2 separate regions of the Homo sapiens genome follow, and region 1 is linked to region 2. Evidence: fine-mapped expression QTL. A gene starts in region 2. The other region holds a variant in brackets. All regions are shown on one strand. Distances are between the middles of the regions. Region 1 overlaps SAMD11 (sterile alpha motif domain containing 11). Region 2 holds the start of PLEKHN1 (pleckstrin homology domain containing N1).

Region 1 (8,000 bases), 31 kb before region 2:
ACTCGGGTGCTGCGTGGGTGTGCACACAGTGGCGTCACGGGCCACATGCCGAGGCGTGGGCACAGCAACGTGGCACTCAGAGGTCATCCCCACGCTCACACACAGAGCTAGGCACTCCCTGTGCCCAGGCTGGGCTCCAGCCTCGCAGCTGCCCACGGGGTCAGCTTTTCCCGGTCTCGTTCTGCAGCCAGGACGGCAACCTTCCCACCCTCATATCCAGCGTCCACCGCAGCCGCCACCTCGTTATGCCCGAGCATCAGAGCCGCTGTGAATTCCAGAGAGGCAGCCTGGAGATTGGCCTGCGACCCGCCGGTGAGGAGCACAGGGGGCCTGAGGGCGGGGTCGGGGCTGTGGGGCCAGAGGACGGTGGCGTCTCCACTCAGCACCAGCAGCCTTGGCAGGCAGCCAGAGAGGCAGGAGGAGCGGCCTGTCCCCCAGGGGCTGCATGGGATGGTAATTGTGTTAATCCCAGCCAGCGGGGCAGACAGGAGGCAGAGGCGGTGGCTCCGCTGTGGCTGCCGCTGGGGTGGGCTTGGAGTAGCCGGGGCCCTGCCACCCCCTTTCCACAGGGCAGACGTAGGCGTGGCCTCAGAGGTTCAGAAACGCACACCCTGGAGGAACGCACGCACTCCCGCAGCGCACGCATGACTGGTCCCGCCTCCTAGGGCTCCTGGACGGAAGGGGTCCCCGGTCCCGCCTCCTAGGGCTCCTGGACGGAGGGGGTCCCCGGTCCCGCCTCCTAGGGCTCCTGGACGGAAGGGGTCCCCGGTCCCGCCTCCTAGGGCTCCTGGACGGAAGGGGTCCCCGGTCCCGCCTCCTAGGGCTCCTGGACGGAGGGGGTCCCCGGTCGGTCCCGCCTTCTAGGGCTCCGGGAAGGATGGGGTTCTCGGGAGGGAAGGGATCCGGCGCCTGAGGGAGGTGCTGCTGCCTGGTCACAGTTGTGGGGGGACCAGGCCCCCCTCAGAGGGCACTGCTGTAGAGAGGGGCACAGCAGAGCCTCAGCCCCAGGGCAGGCCGTGAAAGGAGGCGGGGGCGCCCCGAGGCCCTGTGGACCCCAGGCAGGGGTGTTCCCAGCAGGGCCTGCATCTCTTGGGAAGGAGGGGTGGGGGAGGCCCACCCCCATCTGTGTCCCCCATCCATGGCCCCCATCCGCGTCCTCGTGCACCTAGGAAGGCCCTTGTGGGGCTGGGTGGGGGCAGCTTCTGATGCCGCGTTGGAGACAGCTGAGAGGCGGTTGATAAAATCTAATTGCCCCATCGATCCAGCAGAGCGGAGGGAGCCCCACAATGATTGAGATATTCTGAGCCAGCAGGCCCTCCCCTGTGCCTTCACACAGGGAGACCTCCTCAGGTACACGCGTGTGCGTGTGCCGGCATGTCTGTGTCTGGGGTCCTGTGGGGTGCACGTGATGGGGGTTGCCCGGCAGCTCTCACCCATGGAGTCAGGACGTGTTCGTGCACTTCCGGGCTCACAGGCTCTACGGGGCCTCACGTGTCCTGGACCCGTGTCCAGGTCTCCCATACGCACTCCGTGTCAGGGTCTGGCCCGCTCCCCGGAGCCTCCTCTTGGAGGGGCATTCACCCTGGGGGGCGTTCACCTCTTCTCCCTTCCTGTGACCCCAGGAACCACACATCCATCCTGTTCCCAGCCCGGGCCCTCCCGCTAAGCCGCACCTCCCTGGGCCCTGGGCTGTGAGGGACTCAGAGCAGGTCCTGCATCTGCCTCTGTGAGACCCGCTGGGGTCCATGAGTGAGGAGTGAGCATGGCCTCATCGGCCTTCCTGCGGTCTCATTGCAGGCCCCCTTCCACCTGCCCCCCCCCCCACCCAGTCACCTCCCCCAGGCTAGGAGGAGGCCTTAGCCCCCCACAGAACGGAGAGGGTAGTTTCCACTGTGTACAATGGAAAAGTGATTGCCAGGAGGTGAGAGGCCTTGCTAACCCTGAGGGCATGTGCATGGTGGGCCAGGTGGCAGGTGTGGAAAAGAGCCAGGTTCCCCCAGCCTTGGCCCACCCCCTCCCAGCCCACCGAGCTCTGGCACGGGAGGCTGTGGGGGAGACGATGGCTTCTCAGGGGCCTGAGCAGTGGTGCCTGGATCCGTGTGTGGCCAGGTGCCCCCCGCCGCCCGCCGGGCCCAGCCACCCGATCTGTCACCGAGGTGGGGACCCTGGACCAGACCGTGGGACTGACCCTCTCTCTGGGGCCGGGCCTGACAGCAGCCGGGCCAGGATCAATAAGTTATTAGCACCACTCTGTCAGCTGTAATGTGGGATTGATCGGTGTGGCCGCCGCACTTCCCCAGCCTGATAAAAATGACAGATTAAGGGAATAAGAAAAAGGAATTAGGCCTGGAGCTGACGGCAGGGCTTGTGGGGGGACGGGCTTGGGAGCCCCACTGCCTAGGCCTCATGGAGGTCTTGGGTCACAGGGGAGTGGCCCCTCACTCCACCCAGCTAGAGCCCTCATGAGGATGAGGAAGGGCCAGAGTCGGAGGCACTGGCTGGCCTGGGAGACCCCCAGGGCGTGGAGTCAGGGGCTTCGGAGGAGCTCGGGGTGGGTCGGAGATGGGTACATGGATGGTGTGGTCTGGAATGGGTGCGGTCGGCAGGACCCAAGGGAGGACCTCAGGAGAGTGAGCTGGGCCTGGCCTGGGCCTCCCCTCTGCCACCTGCTGGGCTGTGTTTGGGGCTGAAGCTGGACCTGGCCTGGGCCTCCCCTCTGCCACCTGCTGGGCTGTGTTTGGGGCTAGGGCTGGGCTGGCCTCGTGGCTGAGGAGGTGGGTGAAGCTACTGGGAGGTGCACCCCAGAAGCCCAGAGCCTGGCTGGGCTGGTGGACAAGGGCATGACAGCCACGCCAGGGTGCTAGCTCAGGCAGGACTGGGCCAGAGAGGAGGACGTGGGCCTTCTGGGGGCAGGGATGGGTATGACCAAGTAGGAGGCCTGGGAGTGGAGGCGCCTCGAGGCGGCCTGGGGGGCCCACAGCCCAGTGACTCACAGAGCAGCAAGAGGTCAGGTGTGAGGTCCTTCCCGGCTTGTCTCACCCCACGCTGGCATGTGACCCTGCACAGCCCGCCCTCACTCCTGTCCAGGAGGGGAAGGTGGTGCCTGGTCAAACCAAAAGCTTTTTATTCTCCTCTAGGGGGATGAGAGGGGGGCTCGTTAACTTGCACAAGAGGCTAGATGGCGGGTGGGGCAGCTGGGTGCCTGCTGTGGATCTCTTCTGCACACACGCACCAGGGCCAGTGTCAGAGCTCCCCTGTGCCCCTGTCCCGCCACAGCCAGGCGTGATGTCCTCTGCGCTGAAGGCTGGGGCTGCCAGGGCTGGGCAAGGCCTGTACTCACCAGGACCAAGGGCCCCCTGAGAGATGGTGGGTGCGGTCCAGGCTGAGCTGGAGCAGGGGCTGGGTTCCCCTTCCATTCCTTGAGATGCAGGTGGGCACTCACTACCCTCCCGCAGGTGACCTGTTGGGCAAGAGGCTGGGCCGCTCCCCCCGTATCAGCAGCGACTGCTTTTCAGAGAAGAGGGCACGAAGCGAATCGCCTCAAGGTAAGAGCGTGGCTGGGACGAGAGACAGGTCACCAGGGGAGGGGGCAGTCCCTGAGGGTCCCCTGGACCTCGAGCAGGCACTCTAGAGGGGCGTGGTCCTCGGCAGTGCCTGGAGAAACCTCTCACCCCGGGTCCTCCCCAGCAGAGGCGCTGCTGCTGCCGCGGGAGCTGGGGCCCAGCATGGCCCCGGAGGACCATTACCGCCGGCTTGTGTCAGCACTGAGCGAGGCCAGCACCTTTGAGGACCCTCAGCGCCTCTACCACCTGGGCCTCCCCAGCCACGGTGAGGACCCACCCTGGCATGATCCCCCTCATCACCTCCCCAGCCACGGTGAGGACCCACCCTGGCATGATCTCCCCTCATCACCTCCCCAGCCACATGTACTCGGCCATTCCTGTTGCTGAGGCCCTGCTGACACCAAGGCCAGGCTGGATGCAGGTCCCTCTGCCACACGTCCTGCCCCATGCCCCCTGGGGCGGGCCACACCTCCATGTCCCCTAGGTCCCCAGGGTCATGACTAGCTCACATTTTATATAGAGAGAAATGGAGTCTGGGGTGGACCCAGGTGAGGGTGGGCAGTGGGCATGTCAGCAGCACCCCCCGAGGAGAGCAAGCTCCTGGACCCTGTGGTCTGTGAGTCGTCTATGC[AGCCAGTGGACGCCGACCT/A]GCCAGACGCCTGCCCCAGGAGCCTGGGGAGGGGCAGTGAGCAGAAAGGCCGGGCTGGGTGCAGTGGGCACTTGGCCACCAGGACTCCCCAGGTGCTGAAGAGACGCCAGCTGGAGGGGCTGCCCCTTCCCCCGGGTCGGCCCTGACCCTGTCCACCCCACCTCAGGACGTTCTCCAGGGGTCCCTCCGGGATGCACTCGGACCCCCTGCCCGCTGCACTCAGCCTCCCAGGCCCCAGCCGCCCGCCTGGCAGGGGAGCTTGGCTTTTCGGGCTAGAGGTGGGTGGGGGCGCCGGGAAAGGAGGCAGGATTCCTCACACCAGGCACCGTCCCCCAGGGCAGCTCAGGCACCAAGAGCCTGAATAATTCACCAAATGTTAATAATGTAAAAATCCTCCTTTTTAATTGCTTTCCCTGCTCTGCCTGGGGCCGCTCTGCTGGCCGCGCGGGGGAGGGGCGCCGGCCGCCGGGGAGCGCGCTGTCAATCAGGCCGCGCCGCCGCCCCCCCCCCCCGCCCCGCCGCGGAGCCGGCCGTAAATAACCCTGTAACTAACCCGGCCGCTAGCGCGGGGGCGCTGGGCCCCGCTGGGATCGATGCGGGCGGCCGCGCCGGCTGGGCTCTGCGGGCTGGCACCCGGCCCGGGGCGGGACCCACCTCCGCTTTCGGGTAATTAATTTATAAACAGAGGCGGCGGTGGAGCTGGCGGAGCCTGCATAGTGGGGGCTGCGGGGACTCGGGAGGCCCGGGCGGGAGGGAGAGGCCGAGAGACCTGGGACGCGGCGCCTTAGACGCGGGCGCTGCGTGCGCATTGGGGCGAGTGTGGCCACGCGGGACAGTGACCCTGCGCAGCCGGGACTGGGCGACCCCTGTGCTAGTGTGGCGTGCGTGCGCGGGCGCTGCCTTGCCTTTGTGACAAGCTTTGGCCAGCCGCGTCTACTATGGGGACCTCAGATTTTCTTGCCTCCCACCGAAGAGGGGGTCCCCTGGGCGGTCAGCCCCTGGCTGGCACTTCTGGACTCTCTCGCTGCCCCGCAGGCTCTGTGGCCTCGGGACGTCTGCACAGCCCCCTCCCCGCAAGGCTCAGCCGCCTCTCAGGCCGGAAGCCTCCAGGCACCCGGCTCCCCTTCGGGGAAGAGCTTTTCCCGACACTTCCTCGCCCAGCATCTTGTCTGCCGTCTCGGCCCTGTGGCCGCCCATCCTCCTGCCCCGTGCCCGAGACCAGCCCAGGGGCCGAGCACGGCCGAGTGGTGTGGTCAGTTCCCCACCTCAGTGTTCTACGCCAGGACGCGGGCTGGGGAGGATGAGGGCGCATAGCCGGGGGGATCACTGCTGTTGTCCCCCACCCAGATCTCCTGAGGGTCCGGCAGGAGGTGGCGGCTGCAGCTCTGAGGGGCCCCAGTGGCCTGGAAGCCCACCTGCCCTCCTCCACGGCAGGTCAGCGTCGGAAGCAGGGCCTGGCTCAGCACCGGGAGGGCGCCGCCCCAGCTGCCGCCCCGTCCTTCTCGGAGAGGTACTGGGGTGGCTGCCGTTCTCTGCTTGTTTCTGGGGTGCCGCCCGCACCCCCGCGCTCTCAGCCACCAGCACGCGCCCCGAGAGTGCCAAGCACTGTGTTCAGCTCTAGGTTCGGGTCCGGGCAGAGCGTTTCGGGGGTGACACCGATCTGGGCTGCAGTGTTGAGGGCGCCACTGGGGTGCGTGAGGGAGGCTGAGGCCCATCAGGGGGTTCCCTGGAGGAGAAGCCAGAGAAGGGGAGAGCTCCAAGTCTGGAACCCCGGGGTCAGTCGGGAGGGGTCGGCCAGAGGACTCAGAGCTGGAGGCGGAGGGGGGGTCCTGGCTGGCGCTCAAATGTAGACGCCGGCGCCGGATCTGTTCCCGGCACAGACAAGGCCTCCGGCACAGACCCGGGTTTCTCGGGTCCAGGACACGAGGCGGGGCGGGGCGCCTGGAGAAGGGAGGGGCCGCCTGAGGCCCGAGTCCCTGCCCGGCCGCTGAGCCCGGCGTCTGCAGCTGCCTCCACCGCCGCCCGGATTGCGGCTAATGACGCCCCCGCTTCCCCCGCCGCTCGGGTCCGCAGGGGAGGGGAGCAGGCGGGGCCGGCGCCCCGCGCAGTAATTACCGCTGCAGCCGTCGCCGCCCGCCGGGTCAGCGCCTCCGCGCCGCCGCCGAGATTAATTGGCGCCGCCGGCGGGGGCGGGGATGGCGCGCGACCTGGGGCCGTAACGAGCTGCGCATCGACCGCCCGCGGGGCCGGCAATTAGCGGAGGCGGCGGGGGAGGGGCGCCGGGGCCTTTACGGGAACGGGGGCGGGGGGGACGCCGCTCATTGCGCTGCCGTCCACAGGGAGCTGCCTCAGCCGCCCCCCTTGCTGTCGCCGCAGAATGCCCCTCACGTCGCCCTGGGCCCCCATCTCAGGCCCCCCTTCCTGGGGGTGCCCTCGGCTCTGTGCCAGACCCCAGGTGAGGAGGCGGGTGCGCATCCCCTGGGAGCCCGCGTGGAGGCTCGCGGACCCGGCCCTGCCCCTGTCGGAGCCGAGACGGACCGGGTAGGGGATTGCAAAGGGCCGGCTCGGACCGCCTCGGACCCCCCGACCCCGCGTTGTCCCCCTCCCCACCAGGCTACGGCTTCCTGCCCCCCGCGCAGGCGGAGATGTTCGCCTGGCAGCAGGAGCTCCTGCGGAAGCAGAACCTGGCCCGGTAGGTGCGGGGAGGCGGGCGGGGCCGCGCGGCCCGGGAGGCGGCTGACCCGCGTCTGCCCCCGGCCCAGGCTGGAGCTGCCCGCCGACCTCCTGCGGCAGAAGGAGCTGGAGAGCGCGCGCCCACAGCTGCTGGCGCCCGAGACCGCCCTGCGCCCCAACGACGGCGCCGAGGAGCTGCAGCGGCGCGGGGCCCTGCTGGTGCTGAACCACGGCGCGGCGCCACTGCTGGCCCTGCCCCCCCAGGGGCCCCCGGGCTCCGGACCCCCCACCCCGTCCCGGGACTCTGCCCGGCGAGCCCCCCGGAAGGGGGGTCCCGGCCCTGCCTCAGCGCGGCCCAGCGAGTCCAAGGAGATGACGGGGGCTAGGCTCTGGGCACAAGATGGCTCGGAAGACGAGCCCCCCAAAGACTCGGACGGAGAGGACCCCGAGACGGCAGCTGTTGGGTGCAGGGGGCCCACTCCGGGCCAAGCTCCAGCTGGAGGGGCCGGCGCCGAGGGGAAGGGGCTTTTCCCAGGGTCCACACTGCCCCTGGGCTTCCCTTATGCCGTCAGCCCCTACTTCCACACAGGTGGGCACCCCCACACTCTAGATCCTTCCAGAGGGCACAGGACTGGCAGGCCGCCTGTGGAAGGGTCTTGGGGGGAGGAAAAATTCCCCTTAGGCACCCATCCCCCACCTCAGCAATTGGGGCACACGACGGTCAGGAGACGGGCGGGTATGGGAAAGCCAGCCAGAGCCCTAGTAACACGCCCCACAACTCAGGCGCGGTAGGGGGACTCTCCATGGATGGGGAGGAGGCCCCAGCCCCTGAGGACGTCACCAAGTGGACCGTGGATGACGTCTGCAGCTTCGTGGGGGGCCTGTCTGGCTGTGGAGAGTACACTCGGGTAAGGGGGGGCCCCAGTTCCTGGGGCGGGGCTGGAGCTGGCTGGCAGTCACTACCTCCCTGGAAAGGATGGTGGGGTAGGGCCATTCCCCAACGCCCTCTCCCTCCCCAAAAGCAGTGCGCAGCAGGGACTGGACTGTGCACCCCACCTTTTTTTTTTTTTTTTTTTTTTGCCAGGTGTTTTCTGCCTGACACTCAAACCCAACAG
Region 2 (15,340 bases):
GACTCCGTGGGGGTGGTGCCCCCACCTGTCTGAAGAAGAATCCATCACACAGGTGGTACGGGCATCTGGGGGGTTGTCTCAGCCCTGACGCCCAGTGTGCCCGAGGGTCCCGCCTGACCTTGGCGTTCCCTGCACCCCAGCTCATGAAGTGTGTGCGGCTGCCCTTGCTGAGCCGCGACTTCCTGCTGGGCCACGTGGATGCCGAGAGCCTGGTGAGGCACCACCCTGACTGCAAGGACCTCCTCATCGAGGCCCTGAAGTTCCACCTGCTGCCTGAGCAGAGGGGCGTCCTAGGCACCAGCCGCACACGTCCCCGGCGCTGCGAGGGGGCCGGGCCTGTGCTTTTTGCTGTGGGTATGGCCCCCCGCCCGTTTCCCTCTTGCCCTGTGCCTTCTACTCCCCACCAGCACAAGCCCACCCCACCTGTGCCGGTCAGGTCCTGACCTGCCCCTCCGCCCCTCCATTCAGGGGCCTCTCCAGGAGCCTGGGGTGTGGCCCAGCAGTGGGATCCACTCACGAGTCCCGTCTCCACCTGCCCTCCCCAGGCGGCGGGAGCCTGTTTGCCATCCACGGAGACTGTGAGGCCTACGACACGCGCACCGACCGCTGGCACGTGGTGGCCTCCATGTCCACGCGCCGGGCCCGGGTGGGAGTGGCTGCGGTGGGGAACCGGCTCTATGCTGTGGGCGGGTAAGCCTGGAGGCTGGACTTGGGTCGGGTCTGGCACGTGCCCGCCAGGCCAGTCTTGACCTGCAGTGGCTTAATTCCGCTAGCTATGATGGGACCTCAGACCTGGCTACCGTGGAGTCCTACGACCCCGTGACTAACACGTGGCAGCCGGAGGTGTCCATGGGCACAAGGCGAAGCTGCCTGGGTGTGGCCGCCTTGCATGGACTCCTGTACTCGGCCGGCGGCTATGACGGGGCCTCCTGCCTGAACAGGTAGTTGGGGTTGGGGCCCCAGTGGCTTTGTACAGTCCATCTGCAAGAGGCAAGTTTGTGTCACCATCACAGGGGTCGTATCTGATGGGGTGTTAAAGGAGGTGATCCGCGAGGCCGTTTCACCCCAGGCCACTGCCACACTGGGCCTGAACTCTTGGCTTTGCTGCCCCAGTGCCCTTTCCTCTCTCGGGTCCTTACCCCCAGTCCAGAGGCTGGGCCCAGGTGGGTGTGCACCCAGGGTTGTTCAGGCAGCCAGGGTCCTGTGCCCACCAGCGGGCCCTGCCTGGTAGGACTTTGCGGTCTGAGTTTGACTCCTAGGGTAAGATTTCAGCCATTCCGCTGGGGAGGGCAGGTCCTGGGGCCGGGACGCCTTTCTGTCTCTGCTGAGCTGTGGCTGCGGTCCTGGTGCCCACAGTGCTGAACGCTACGACCCCCTGACCGGAACGTGGACGTCCGTCGCTGCCATGAGCACCCGGAGGCGCTATGTGCGAGTGGCCACGCTTGGTGGGTGATGGGGCCTGCCTGGGGGGCATCCCCACCTTCCCCCACCGTGGAGACCCCACTCCCAGCAGGAGTGCCACGGGTGTGTTGACTTCCGGCAGATGGGAACCTGTATGCTGTGGGCGGCTACGACAGCTCCTCACACCTGGCCACTGTGGAGAAGTATGAGCCCCAGGTGCATAGTGCACCCCTCCTGGCCACCCCCTCCCGTGCGCCGCGGGGCCCTCCTCCCTCTGTTTACCCACATCCCCCCCATTCCTGACACCCCACCCTGGAGTCGGGGCTGCGGCAGAGGAGGGATGCCAGTGGCGGGTCTGCGTCCAGCCCACGCCCTCGCCCCCAGGTGAACGTGTGGTCGCCCGTGGCGTCCATGCTGAGCCGACGCAGCTCAGCGGGCGTGGCCGTGCTGGAGGGTGCCCTGTACGTGGCAGGGGGCAACGACGGCACCAGCTGCCTCAACTCGGTAGAGAGATACAGTCCAAAGGCTGGAGCCTGGGAAAGCGTGGCGCCCATGAATATCCGCAGGTCCGCAGTGGGGCTGCGGGGAGGGGGGCGCGGGTCCGCAGTGGGGCTGTGGGAGGGGTCCGCGCGTCCGCAGTGGGGATGTGCTGCGGGGAGGGGGGCGCGGGTCCGCAGTGGGGATGTGCTGCCGGGAGGGGGGCGCGGGTCCGCAGTGGGGATGTGCTGCCGGGAGGGGGGCGCGGGTCCGCAGTGGGGATGTGCTGCCGGGAGGGGGGCGCGGGTCCGCAGTGGGGATGTGCTGCCGGGAGGGGGGCGCGGGTCCGCAGTGGGGATGTGCTGCCGGGAGGGGGGCGCGGGTCCGCAGTGGGGATGTGCTGTGAGAAGGGAGTTCTCCCAACCTCAGCGAGCATGTCCCGCCACCACCCCTTTTTGTGGTGCAGCCCCTCCCCCCGCATCCCTTCCTGCAGCCAGGGGCTCACCCCGCCTTCCCCCCAGGAGCACGCATGACCTGGTGGCCATGGACGGATGGTTGTACGCCGTGGGGGGTAACGACGGTAGCTCCAGCCTCAACTCCATCGAGAAGTACAACCCGAGGACCAACAAGTGGGTGGCCGCATCCTGCATGTTCACCCGGCGCAGCAGTGTGGGTGTGGCGGTGCTGGAGCTGCTCAATTTCCCGCCGCCATCCTCCCCGACGCTGTCCGTGTCCTCCACCAGCCTCTGACCCACCTACCACCAGAGGCCTGCAGCCTCCCACATGCCTTAAGGGGACCGTGGCCCCCACCAGGGACGTCCTGCGCCATCCGTTCACGTCTCTGCATCCATTCCTTCATGTCTTTATTTAGTTGTTTATTTATTTAGTTATTTATCTTATTTATTGAGGGGTGAGGAGTGCCACGGCTGCCCGTTTACACCTTTAGCGTCTGGTCCTCCTGCGTGTCCTCCCCTCCACTGCCTGCATGGGGGGCGCGGGGAGTGACCAGGCGGGGGCCTCACCGCCCCAGGGCCGTTGCCTGCTCAGACCTTGCAGGCTGTGGAGCAAGAGGCCCTGGGTCTCTCCAAGCAGCTGCAGACCCCAGCTCGAATTTTGCACATGGCGGGGTCCCGGGAAGGGTGGGGAGCAGTTGTCCTTCCTGTCGTCGTCTGCCGTGTGCCATCTTTCCTGGATCTTGTAGTGGGTGCACACGCGTGCACTGGGACCCCACACAGCAATACGAGTCCAACTTAATAAACACATTTCTGGGGTTCCTCAGGCTGAGCATCTCTCTCTGGCATGTGGGGCAGCTGCGCAACTTTGGGTCCTGTCTGGGGTCCAGGGTGAGGGGTGTGGGGGGGTGCCCTGAGATGCGCAGGCATCTGGGAGCTGCAAGGCAGAGCTGTGCGTCCAGGGAGGGTGGGGGCCGTGCAGTTCCTGTGGACCAGCGTCCCAGTGTGGGTGGCGTTTGCCTGGGCTGGGTACTGAGGCCGAGGTCCCCGCCACATCGTGGGCTCTGGGGTTAGGGCTGGGGAGGACAGCCTTGCCCCCGAGTGCGCTGACTGTCTTGGCCGTCTAGGGGGCATGTGGCCTCCCTGAGTCCCCTTAAGCCTTGGGGACCCTGACTCGGGTCTGTGGCGAGGGGGCCCAGGCAGGAGGGGAGGCTGCGGTGGCTTTGGCCGCCGTCTCCTGTGCTGGAACTCCTGCCTCAGCCCTCCCTGCAGTCACCGGTGACTCGGGCCGGCCAGAGTTTAGATGGAAACAGGATGTGTGGGCACGTTGTCCCGGGGGGCCTGGAAGGTCGCCCCGGGTTCACCAAGCCGGAGCACAAGCAGGTGGGGTACCTCTGCACACTGGAGGCCTCGTCTGGGCCAGAGGGGTGCTTGCCCCAAGGCTGGCCTCTCGAGTGGAGGGCCCAGGGCAGAGACCTGCACGGCTCAGGTAGGGGCCAGGCCTCTTCCAGAAAGGCTCCACCCTCGCCCAGGCCCTGGTGCCGGGCGGGACGTCCCGGAGCCCCGCCTGCCCGCGGGAGGCGGGGGCAGGAGGCTGTGGACAGGGACCCAGACTTGCCGACCTGTACGACTCTGGCCATGGGGAACAGCCACTGTGTCCCTCAGGCCCCCAGGAGGCTCCGGGCCTCCTTCTCCAGAAAGCCCTCGCTGAAGGGAAACAGGTGAGCGGGGCGTGGGTGCGGCCACCTGGGCGCAGGGCTCCCCCACCCGCTCCGGGGCCAAGCCACGAGACCCCTTGCCTTGTCCCCAGAGAGGACAGCGCGCGGATGTCGGCCGGCCTGCCGGGCCCCGAGGCTGCTCGAAGCGGGGACGCCGCCGCCAACAAGCTCTTCCACTACATCCCGGGCACGGTGAGCGCGGCGTGCACGGTGGCTGTGGTCTGGGAGCGTGGCTCTGCCCGCGCGTGTGTGCCGTGTGTCCGTGCAGCTCAGGGTCTTCCCCTCGCCCCCGGGGCGTTCAGACCCCGGTAGGTGAGGAGCCGACGCTGACTGCCCCGCCCTGGGGAGCTCATCCGGCCGAAAGTCTGAGCGGAGAGCGAAACCGCGACGCAGGACTGAGTCAGTCGGGAGAGAGCTGGGCGGGGCGGGCCGCGGGCGGGGCCTCCCGGGACCTCCTCCCGCAGGGGACCAGCGCACGTGTCTCTGTCGCTGCAGTGGGGCTTGGGGTCGTGCCGGCAGGTAGTGTCACTTGAGAGTAAGGGGCCTCAGATGAGCAGCGAGCCAGCCGGTCACCTACACCGGCCTTTCTCCCTGGGTGTCCCGCAGGAAGTTGCCGCTGGGTATGGCCGCCTGGTCCACAGCAATCCCTCTGTGCACGCGCCGGCCTCCTCCCAGCTTGCCAAGGCCATGCAGCAAGGAGGTGTCTCCCAAGCACACACTAGGCCACCTCTCCGTCAAAGGAGCAGAAGACCACCCCCATGCCCACCCCCCCCCCAGCCCCTGTGGGACTAAGGGTCTTCACAGGGTAGATCCCAGCCCCTTTCAGATGTGTCTGGTGCTGGGATGAGGGAACAGGACCAGGAACCTGGGCTTCAGGGCAGACAGGAACCCCCACTGCACCCCCGTCAGGCAGCCTGGATGGGTGGGCTCCGCTATGTGCAGGCCCTAGGAGCATCTGCGGGAGAGGACGCCTGCCCTGCACTCCTGGGTCCAGCAGCTGGCATGGCCGTGCAGACCCCTTTGCCAACATGCCCCCGCCAGGCAGGAAGCTCGTGCCATACCCTCTCCTGACCTCCAGAGTTTCAGGGCTCCCTGCAGACAAGTACTGGTTTCGGAAACCACGCTGCCTCAGAGGAGTGGGCAGGGAGAGGGAGCCGGGCTGGGTTAGGGGTGGGGTCCCTGTGGCTGCATCTCAGACACCACTCCCTCTGTCCAGGCCCAGGACATGCAGTGTGACCCTGGGGGGTCCTATGAGGTGTGGTGGGTGGCCGTAGTGGTCCTCCCTTGCCAGGACATGGTAGCCACAGAGGCAACAACCTGCTGAACCTCGGGAAATGGGGCTGGGGGAGGAGCTCTGGGCCAGTCCTAGAGCCAGTGCTCCGCGGCCCTGTACCTGGGCTCTGCACCCAGTGCTGTGAGCTGGCTCTACTACGGCTCCAAGCTGAGTCCTCCCCGGGGCCCCGAGGCTGAGCTGCGCTGCAGGGCCAGCTGTGTGGCCCTTCCTGGTCTGTGGCCTATTTTTCATGGGTGCCAACCCGGCATCAGTTCCCACGCTGGGTGTGGGTACAGGAGGCCCCACCCAGAGGCAGAAGGCCGGGAAAGCCATGCGTCTGTCTGTTCACATTCCTGGGCCTGCTCAGGGGCAGCTAAGCTTGGCCAGGGCACAGCAGCTCTGCAGGTAGCTCTCGCCAGCTCCTAGAAGGAGGAGGACACCTTCCCACTTGGCCCTGAGCCTGTGGATCACAGAGGTCTCCAGCCCCAGGTTCACACCCGTCCCTTTTCTGACTTCCAACCTGGTGATCAAAGCCTGCATTTGTAGAGGACTGTGTGTGCCAGGATTGACTACATGTGGCGTGGATGTGGAGTCCCCTCCCCTCTCAGCACATGCAGTGATACCCACAGCACATCCCAGGCCCTGTCTTAGGCTCTGGGGACACAGCAGTGAACGGAATAGACAACCCCTGTTCTGCTAGTGCTCCCATTCCCACGGCAGAGACACACGACGGGACAAATCAATAGATCCAGTGAGCGGGGTCAGGTCGGTGCTAAGGAGAAAAACAGAGGGGATGAGTGCAGAGGATCAGGGAAGGCTGGAATTTTAGAAAGGCTTTCAGAAAAGGAATTCTTGGAGCAGGTAATGTCTGAGCAAAGCTGCAAAGCGGGTAAGGAGGGGGGTCAGGACTGAGCGGTCCCCAAAGCAGGAACAGAACATGCAGCAGCCAGAGAGCATGGGTCTGATGTGAGGAGACAGTGAGGCCGGGGCAGCCACAGAGACCCCTCGGGGGAGACCCCTCGGGGCACTGCCAGGACCCCGTTGTCCCCTGAGTGAGGCATACGGAGCGGCCAACACACAGAGGATCGACCCCAGAAATCTCCTCACATATTTCAGGCTGGGGGCTGGAAATGGGCAACGGTGAGGACACTGACACCGAGGAGATTGGCAAACGTTACAAATCAGGGCATCGGTGTGTTTCTGTGTCTGTTTTTTGTAGAACCAGGTGTTAAGCATTTACCATACAATACTGCAGACGTGGGAGGGTTTTGAGTGTTACCCAGACACCCCCAAATTCTTCTAACAAGTCTTCAGAGGTTGAATAACCCAAGCCATGTTACACAGCTTAGGAAAGAATGAAGATGGGTTTAATCCACTGAGTCCAGATCTCACCATCTCTACCACTAGACCAGGCAGCTCTGTGTGGGGAAGTGTGTCTGTGTGTGCGTGTGTGTGCACAAGTGTGTATGTGTGCATGTGTTTGCACGTGTATATGTGTGCACACATCTGTGTGTATATGCACAGGTGTATGTATACGTGTGTGTTGGTGTATTTGTGTGTGTGTGGAAATGTATGCATGTATGCAGTGTGCATGTGTGCATGCATGTGTGTGCATGTGTGTATAGGTGTGCATGTGTATGTGTGCACGTGTGTATGTGCACGTGTGTATGTGTATACATGTGTATGGGTGTATTTGCGTGTGGATATGTATGCATGTATGCACGTGTGTGCATATCTGTGTATGTGCAACTGTGTATGTGTGCACGTGTGTATCCATGCATATGTGTGCGTGTGTGTACATGTGTGTATAAGTGCGTATGTGTGTTCCCGTGTGTATGCATCTGTGTCTGTATTGTGTGGCATGTATGTGTCTATTGTGTGTGTATGCATGTGTGCGTGTATGCATTTATACATGTGTATGTGTGCGCATATATGGATGCATGCATGTTGCCTGCATGTGCACGTATCGGGTGTGTGTGCGTGTACGTGTACACGAATATGCATGTATGCATATATGTATGCACGTGTGTGTAAATTCTGCCGTGACTGTTTTCCTGTGGAAAGGCTGAGTGTGCAGGTTCTGTGCCTGTGGGGGGCTGTTCTTCACGTATGTGTTGTGTGGCTGTGCACAGGTTCTGTGCCTGTGGGGGGCTGTTCTTCACGTATGTGTTGTGTGGCTGTGCACAGGTTCTGTGCCTGTGGGGGGCTGTTCTTCACGTATGTGTTGTGTGGCTGTGCACAGGTTCTGTGCCTGTGGGGGGCTGTTCTTCACATATGTGTTGTGTGGCTATGCACAGGCAGACCATGCTATAGTCCTGTAGCTGTGTGGATGCGAGCGGAGGGGGTGGGGGGCCCAGGGGAGGCCCCCTCCCCTGAGCTCTACTCCTCCTAGGACATCCTGGACCTGGAGAACCAGCGAGAAAACCTGGAGCAGCCATTCCTGAGTGTGTTCAAGAAGGGGCGGCGGAGGGTGCCTGTGAGGAACCTGGGAAAAGTTGTGCATTACGCCAAGGTCCAGCTGCGGTTCCAGCACAGCCAGGTGGGGGCCGGGCTGGGTGGAGCACGCTAAGGGTGCAGCATCCCCATCAGCCTGGGGCTCCCCAGACTCCGCACTGACGACCCTGCTCCCCGCGCAGGATGTCAGCGACTGCTACCTGGAGCTATTCCCCGCCCACCTGTACTTCCAGGCCCACGGCTCGGAAGGACTCACATTTCAGGTGAGGCGGTGGGCAATGGGGTGGGGCCATGGCCGCCCTTCCCTCCATGGATCCCTGAAGCTCCTCCTACCCTGTGCCTGGCAGGGGCTGTTACCGCTGACGGAGCTGAGTGTCTGCCCGCTCGAGGGGTCCCGAGAGCACGCCTTCCAGATCACAGGTGTTTGGGATGCTTCCCGGGCCCCCAGAGGCACTCCTGACCCAGGACTTGGAGAGGGGCCTGCCCTGTGGCTGCGGAGCACGTGTGTGTATGTGTGTGCCCTCTCTGCCCTGCCCGCAGGCCCACTGCCCGCACCCCTCCTGGTGCTCTGCCCCAGCCGGGCCGAGCTGGACCGCTGGCTTTACCACCTGGAGAAGCAGACGGCCCTCCTCGGGGGGCCGCGGCGCTGCCACTCGGCACCCCCACAGGTCAGTGCCGGGGACCCCACCCCCCTCCCCACCCTGATCCTCGCAGCCGGCTCTGACCTCCTCCTCACAGGGGTCCTGCGGAGACGAACTCCCCTGGACTTTGCAGCGCCGTCTAACCCGGCTGCGGACGGCGTCAGGGCACGAACCCGGCGGCAGTGCTGTCTGTGCCTCGAGGGTCAAGCTGCAGCACCTGCCCGCACAGGTGGGTGGGAGGTGCGTGGGGCTGTAGGGGGATGGGAGGGGTGCATGGTGGTGGGCAGGGCGGTGCAACAGCAGCTCAGTTCCCTCATCGCCTGACCCCACCCCCACCCACCCAGGAGCAGTGGGACCGGCTCTTGGTCCTGTACCCAACGTCCTTGGCCATTTTCTCCGAGGAGCTGGACGGGCTTTGCTTCAAGGTGGGCCCCTCCCCACTGTGGGCCCGCCCCAGGGAGGCAGCTGTGTGGGGGTGGGAGGGGGCAGCCATGCAGGAGGAACCTGTATTTCGGGGCTTGTTGAGACAGAGCGCAGGGCCCTGCCCACCCAGCCCGCGGTCCTGGTCAGTCTGGTCTCCGCTGTGACATGGAGGAGCCCCTGCCCGCCCTGAGGTTCTCACCCTGAGGTTCTTGACCGTCACCCTGGGGCGGGCAGCATGGGGCTGAGAGCCCCTCCCGGGGACTCCCTTGTGTGTGCCTGCCCGTGAGGCGTGTGTGTGCACACGTGCGTGTGCGTGTGTCCTCCAGGGCGGGCTCCGGGAAGGGGGTGTGCACTCACGGTAACCTTCAGTCACTGAGGAACAAACACAGGGCCCTCCCCATGGTTCACCCGGCCCAACTTCTTCTCTGGGGACCCCAAGAGGCCAGTCCTGTGGCTTTGTGTGTCTGCCCCTAGCCGGCGAAGGCCCCCGCGCCAGGGTTGGTGGTAGCCCCAGGAGACATGGGACCCACTGGCCTCCCTCAGGGTGGTGGCCTCGGTGCCCAGCTCTCCAAGTACCCAGCCAAGCTCTGGAGGGCAAGAGGGTGGGATGAGGCCAGGCGGGGCCCCGGGGCTGCCCCTACAAAGGCCTGGCCCTCAATCTCTGCTCCGCAGGGGGAGCTCCCACTCCGTGCCGTCCACATCAACCTGGAGGAGAAGGAGAAGCAGATCCGCTCCTTCCTGATTGAAGGTAGGGCCCTGACCCTGGTTCTGCCTCCCGCCTGGCCAGGCCATGGTGGGGCGGGAGCCTGGGGGACGCCCGACTCTTTAGTGGGGGCGCTGAGGGGTGCACCCCCCCGCCAGCCCCTCACAGCATCTGTATGCCAGGCCCCCTCATCAACACCATCCGCGTGGTGTGCGCCAGCTACGAGGACTACGGTCACTGGCTGCTGTGCCTTCGCGCTGTCACCCACAGGGAGGGGGCCCCGCCGCTGCCTGGTGCCGAGAGCTTCCCAGGGTCGCAGGTGAGGGGTCAATAGGCCCCACAGCCCAGGTCCTGGGCAGTGGTAAAAAGGGGGCAGCAGACCGGGCGTGGTGGCGCACGCCTGTAATCCCAGCATTTTAGGAGGCTGAGGCGGGCGGATCATTTGAGGTCAGGGGTTCGAGATCAGCCTGACCGACGTGGAGAAACCCTGTCTCTATTAAAAATACAAAAAAATTAGCCGGGCATGGCGGTACATCCCTGTAACCCCAGCTACTCAGGAGGCTGAGGCAGGAGAATCGCTTGACCAGGAGGCGGAGGTTGCAGTGAGCCGAGATCGTGCCACTGTACTGCAGCCTGGGCGACAGAATAAGACTTCGTCCCAAAAAGATAAAAGGGGGGACAGCACGGTGGGTCCAGGCAGGGGCGGGTGGGGAGGGGGTCCAGCCCTCACTCACCCCCACTCACTGCCCATCCAGGTTATGGGCAGTGGCCGAGGCTCACTCTCCTCAGGCGGACAGACCAGCTGGGACTCGGGGTGCTTGGCGCCCCCCTCCACCCGCACCAGCCACTCCCTGCCTGAGTCCTCAGTGCCATCCACCGTGGGCTGCTCCTCCCAGCACACACCGGTGAGCGCTTACGGGGTGGCAGACGAAAGTGGGGCAGAAGGCTGTCGGGTAGGTGTGTGTTGGGGACCCTGGTTCCTCAGGGGAACTCAGACTGGAGGGAGCCCCTTGCAGCCTCAGAGAGTTGCACGGGAGAGGGGCCAAAGGGCTCTTCCTGGAAGGTTTGTGGTCCCCACAGGACCAGGCCAACTCTGACCGTGCCAGCATTGGCCGACGGAGGACCGAGCTGAGACGCAGTGGCAGCAGCCGGTCACCCGGGAGCAAGGCCCGGGCAGAGGGCCGCGGCCCTGTCACCCCACTGCACCTGGACCTGACCCAGGTGGGCCCAGCACACCCACACAGCCCCTGGCCTGGTTCCCACCGTTCCGCACCACTGGTCTCTGTCTCTGGGCCCAGTTGTCCTGGAGCCACCCAGAGGCCTCTTGCACAGAGAAGGGGTGGCCTAGGCTGTTTCTAGCCGAGAAGCCCATTTCTCCCACCTCTGCCCTGCAGCTGCACAGGCTGAGCCTGGAGAGCAGCCCAGATGCCCCTGACCACACTTCGGAAACATCACACTCGCCCCTCTATGCCGACCCCTACACACCACCCGCCACCTCCCACCGCAGGGTCACAGATGTCCGGGGCCTGGAGGAGGTCAGGCCCCTGCTGGGTGACAGAAAGGGTGGGAGGTGCCTGCAGCCTGAGGCTGGGGAGGTCTAGACCGTGCGTCTCACCCTGGGGTCTGGGGCTGCCCCAAGCCTGAGGTCTGTTCAGGCTCTGATGGGAGGTTGAGGTTCTGGGGGCCCCTGGCTGCCACCCAGGCCCCAGCCCTGGCTCTCCCTGCAGTTCCTCAGTGCCATGCAGAGTGCACGTGGACCCACGCCCTCGAGCCCACTCCCCTCGGTGCCTGTGTCTGTGCCTGCCTCTGACCCTCGCTCCTGCTCCTCCGGCCCCGCTGGCCCCTACTTGCTCTCCAAGAAGGGAGCCCTGCAGTCCAGAGCCGCTCAGAGACACCGGGGCTCAGCCAAGGATGGGGGGCCGCAGCCCCCAGACGCCCCTCAGCTTGTGAGTAGCAGCCCCCACGCCCGTGTGCCCCGGGCTCCGGGCTGGCCGGGGGTCTGGTGTGGGGCCTCTTGGGACTCTGAGGGAGCAGGGAGGGAAACAGGAGGACGGGGGCAGATGGAGGCCAGGGGGGCCAGTAGGGAGTTGGGGAGATGGGACTGGGGAGGGAGAGCAGGGGGACATGGGGGGCTGCACAGTGACAGGCCGCCTCCAAGCTCCCTGCCTGGGGCTGTGCCCGGCTCTCAGACTTGCGGTTTGGGGTTCCAGGTCTCCTCTGCCAGGGAAGGTTCGCCCGAACCCTGGCTGCCTCTGACAGGTGAGTAAGGATCCTGCCTCCTGAGGTGAGTGCCTGTTGCCTCCCACAGGCTGACACATCTCTGCCTTCCCTACCAGATGGTCGGTCCCCCAGGAGGAGCCGGGACCCCGGCTACGACCACCTCTGGGACGAGACTTTGTCTTCCTCCCACCAGAAGTGCCCCCAGCTTGGAGGGCCTGAGGCCAGTGGGGGGCTTGTGCAGTGGATCTGATGGCCGCGGTGAGGTGGGTTCTCAGGACCACCCTCGCCAAGCTCCAGGGTACCTGCCCCTCTAACCCACTTCAAATTACAAGTCAGGGTCTGAACCCAGTGTGATGGGGGGAGTCTCTGGGGCCCTGAGTTCAGAGCCCGTCCCTCAGCTCCTGTTCCTTGGTGCCAGCAGCTGGGGCAGGGAAGGGTGGGAGGGGCCCCATCCAAAGGATGCCCTGGCCAGCGAGGCTGGGTCACAGGTCAGGGAGGTCCTGGCCGTCCACAGGGTCGGCCCTCAGCTCAGCCCGCCAGGAGTCAGGGAGGAGACTCGCTGGGAGTGGGAGGGCAGCACGGGCGTGAAGGTCGGAGGACAGAGAAAGGTCAGCAGGGTCAGAGTATGTGAGGTCAGAGGGCATGAGGGTCACAGGTCAGCAAGGTGTGAGGAGCACAAGCCAGGGTGCCCCGAGGAGGAGGGTGGGTGGGTCCTTGTGTGGCCTGGCGCGCACCACAGGGCAGCACGGGAGACGTTGACACCACCGGACGAGAAAGAAAAAAGAGAGAAGAGAGAGAGGAGAAGAGAGAAAAGAAGAGAAGAGAGAAGAGAAGAGAAGGAAAGAGAGAGAGAGAATAAGAAAAGGAAGAAAGAAAAAGAAAAGATAGAATTTTATTGGTGCTGCATCCATGTGTTCTCTGCTCAGCAGCCAGGGTCTCCCACAGTCTTGAGGACCCCCACCCAGCACCCAGCCAGGCAGCCCCCTTCCTCTGCCACCTCGGGCCCCTCACCGACCTTCCCACCTCATCTCTGACTCCTCTTGGCTGTGGGTCCCCAGCTGCCCCACAGGAGCCCCCGGGACAACCCCAGGAGCCCAGCCCTCCATCTGAGGCCACCGAATTCTCCCTCTGCACCTGCACCCAGGGCTCCCGGGGAGGGGCTCGCGGCTCTGCCACAGACCCCCACCCTGCAGGGGCTGCTGCACTGGGGAGGGGCAGGCAGAGCCTTCGCTGTCTCAGGCCAGAGCCCGCAGAGGCCTTGGCCACAGTCCTTTGAGGATCAAGAGTGATGGGCCTTGGAGCCCTTGCCAGCCCAGCCCACCTGTGAGGAGGCTGCCCATCCCCTCTTTGAGGCCACCCTGTGTCCTCTCCCCTGCCTCTGCCCAGAGCTCCAGCCGGAGTGTCTTGCTGCTCAGACCCCTCCGAGGTCCAAGTCCTGTCCTGCCACTCAGCTCCCCCTGCACCCCAGAAGAAACGCAGGGTGCGGTTGCATTTGATTTCAGATAAACAACAACTTCTTAGTAAAATGACCTCCCCACTATTGCCTGTCTGAAATTAACCGAATGCCCTGTGTTCTCATCTGTGAATCTGGCCACCCTCCTACCCAGCCACCTGCCTGCCCTCCACCCACCCAGACTTTAGCACCTCCCTCCCAGGCGTGGGGAGTGGCCGTGGTCACTGGCTGGATCCTCAGGTGAGTCGGAGGGAGCAGCACCAGGACACGCCCCCCTCCTGGACGCGGTAGAAGAGAGGGGTCAGAGGGCCCGGGCGAGGGCGGCACCTCGTCCTGCCCTGGGCGCCTGTGGTCGTCTCCTCATCCTGCATCTCCCTGGCCCGGGCCTGGCTCCTAGGAGCTGGGGCTGGGGCTGTGGCTGCGGCGCCCTTGCCCCACCTGCCGGCGGAAGTAGCGGATGGCAGAGATGGTGCCGACGTTGGCCAGCAAGGCTGCAAGAGAAGCACAGGCTCTTCTGAGGGCCAGCCTGGCTGTCGGCACCGTCTGCCCGCAAGACCCAGCCCTCAAAGGGCGGGCAAGGTCGGTGCGGCCAGGGCCGCAGCTCAGCCTGGGGGGAGCAGGTCAGGGGTGAGCCCCGGGGCCCCCGTGCACCCCTCGTCCTGCCAGCGCCCCTCGGTCTGGCTTCTAGGCGCAGCTCCCTCTGCCCCCAGGCACCCAAACCTGTTTTCCAGGCGTCTGGGGTATGCGGATCTGACGTCCTCACAGCCCAGGTGGCAAAAGCTACAAACACCAGGCACATGTCATTCTGGCTGAAGGCAAATGATGGGACAGGCCCCCGGAGCTCCCCTAGGACAGAAGCTCACCTTCAGCCCCACGGCTGCACTCAGAGATGGCCCCGCACACGCCCGCCCCGGGAACCGCCTGCCCCCACCCCCACCAACCCCGGGAACCGCCTCCCACTCCCCCCGCCAACCCCGGGAACCGCCTCCCACTCCCCCCGCCAACCCCGGGAACCGCCTCCCACTCCCCCCGCCAACCCCGGGAACCGCCTCCCACTCCCCCCGCCAACCCCGGGAACCGCCTCCCACTCCCCCCGCCAACCCCGGGAACCGCCTCCCACTCCCCCCGCCAACCCCGGGAACCGCCTCCCACTCCCCCCGCCAACCCCGGGAACCGCCTCCCACTCCCCCCGCAACCCCGGGAACCGCCTCCCACTCCCCCCGCAACCCCGGGAACCGCCTCCCGCTCCCCCCACCAACCCCGGGAACCGCCTCCCGCTCCCCCCACCAACCCCGGGAACCGCCTCCCGCTCCCCCCGCAACCCCGGGAACCGCCTCCCGCTCCCCCCACCAACCCCGGGAACCGCCTCCCGCTCCCCCCACCAACCCCGGGAACCGCCTCCCGCTCCCCCCACCAACCCCGGGAACCGCCTCCCGCTCCCCCCACCAACCCCGGGAACCGCCTCCCACCACCCCGCCAACCCCGGGAACCGCCTGCCCCCACCGACCAACCCCGGGAACCGCCTCCCACTCCCCCCGCAACCCCGGGAACCGCCTCCCGCTCCCCCCACCAACCCCGGGAACCGCCTCCCGCTCCCCCCACCAACCCCGGGAACCGCCTCCCGCTCCCCCCACCAACCCCGGGAACCGCCTCCCGCTCCCCCCACCAACCCCGGGAACCGCCTCCCGCTCCCCCCACCAACCCCGGGAACCGCCTCCCGCTCCCCCCACCAACCCCGGGAACCGCCTCCCGCTCCCCCCACCAACCCCGGGAACCGCCTCCCGCTCCCCCCACCAACCCCGGGAACCGCCTCCCGCTCCCCCCACCAACCCCGGGAACCGCCTCCCGCTCCCCCCACCAACCCCGGGAACCGCCTCCCGCTCCCCCCACCAACCCCGGGAACCGCCTCCCGCTCCCCCCGCAACCCCGGGAACCGCCTGCCCCCACCGACCAACCCCGGGAACCGCCTCCCACCCCCACCAACCCCGGGAACCGCCTCCCAATCCCCCCAACCCCGGGAACTGCCTCCCACCCCCACCAACCCCGGGAACCGCCTCCCAATCCCCCCAACCCCGGGAACTGCCTCCCACCACCCCCAACCCCGGGAACCGCCTCCCACTCCCCC

Evidence for each region. PIP is the estimated chance that this variant, and not a neighbour inherited with it, causes the effect.
Region 1: its variant is the best candidate, but not a certain one, in a credible set for the expression of PLEKHN1 in adrenal gland (GTEx, PIP 0.76).

Annotation. Positions count from the first base shown.
Region 1 is chr1:935,585-943,584 of GRCh38, forward strand. SAMD11 (sterile alpha motif domain containing 11) reads left to right here. Exons shown (of 14, transcript NM_001385641.1): 5 at 188-312; 6 at 3,456-3,545; 7 at 3,691-3,828; 8 at 5,560-5,722; 9 at 6,552-6,667; 10 at 6,826-6,904; 11 at 6,975-7,474; 12 at 7,669-7,793. Among named protein-coding and RNA genes, the nearest start is that of SAMD11, 16 kb to the left of the region's middle. RefSeq lists enhancers at 2,351-3,062, 7,632-7,771 and silencers at 2,789-2,838, 6,060-6,129, 6,200-6,399. The variant AGCCAGTGGACGCCGACCT/A (reference allele first, on the strand shown) is at 4,195.
Region 2 is chr1:962,564-977,903 of GRCh38, forward strand. It overlaps PLEKHN1 (pleckstrin homology domain containing N1), which reads left to right and starts at 3,919. Exons shown (of 16, transcript NM_032129.3): 1 at 3,919-4,051; 2 at 4,141-4,240; 3 at 7,714-7,860; 4 at 7,958-8,038; 5 at 8,123-8,195; 6 at 8,316-8,443; 7 at 8,550-8,645; 8 at 8,761-8,841; 9 at 9,512-9,587; 10 at 9,725-9,861; 11 at 10,298-10,447; 12 at 10,623-10,763; 13 at 10,937-11,077; 14 at 11,270-11,488; 2 more. The coding sequence starts at 3,969. The coding sequence ends at 12,012. KLHL17 (kelch like family member 17) reads left to right here. Exons shown (of 12, transcript NM_198317.3): 6 at 141-354; 7 at 546-690; 8 at 774-941; 9 at 1,357-1,445; 10 at 1,544-1,617; 11 at 1,786-1,967; 12 at 2,400-3,156. The coding sequence ends at 2,628. PERM1 (PPARGC1 and ESRR induced regulator, muscle 1) reads right to left here. Exons shown (of 4, transcript NM_001394713.1): 3 at 13,936-14,061; 4 at 12,635-13,706. The coding sequence ends at 13,609. RefSeq lists silencers at 3,811-4,130, 4,401-4,560.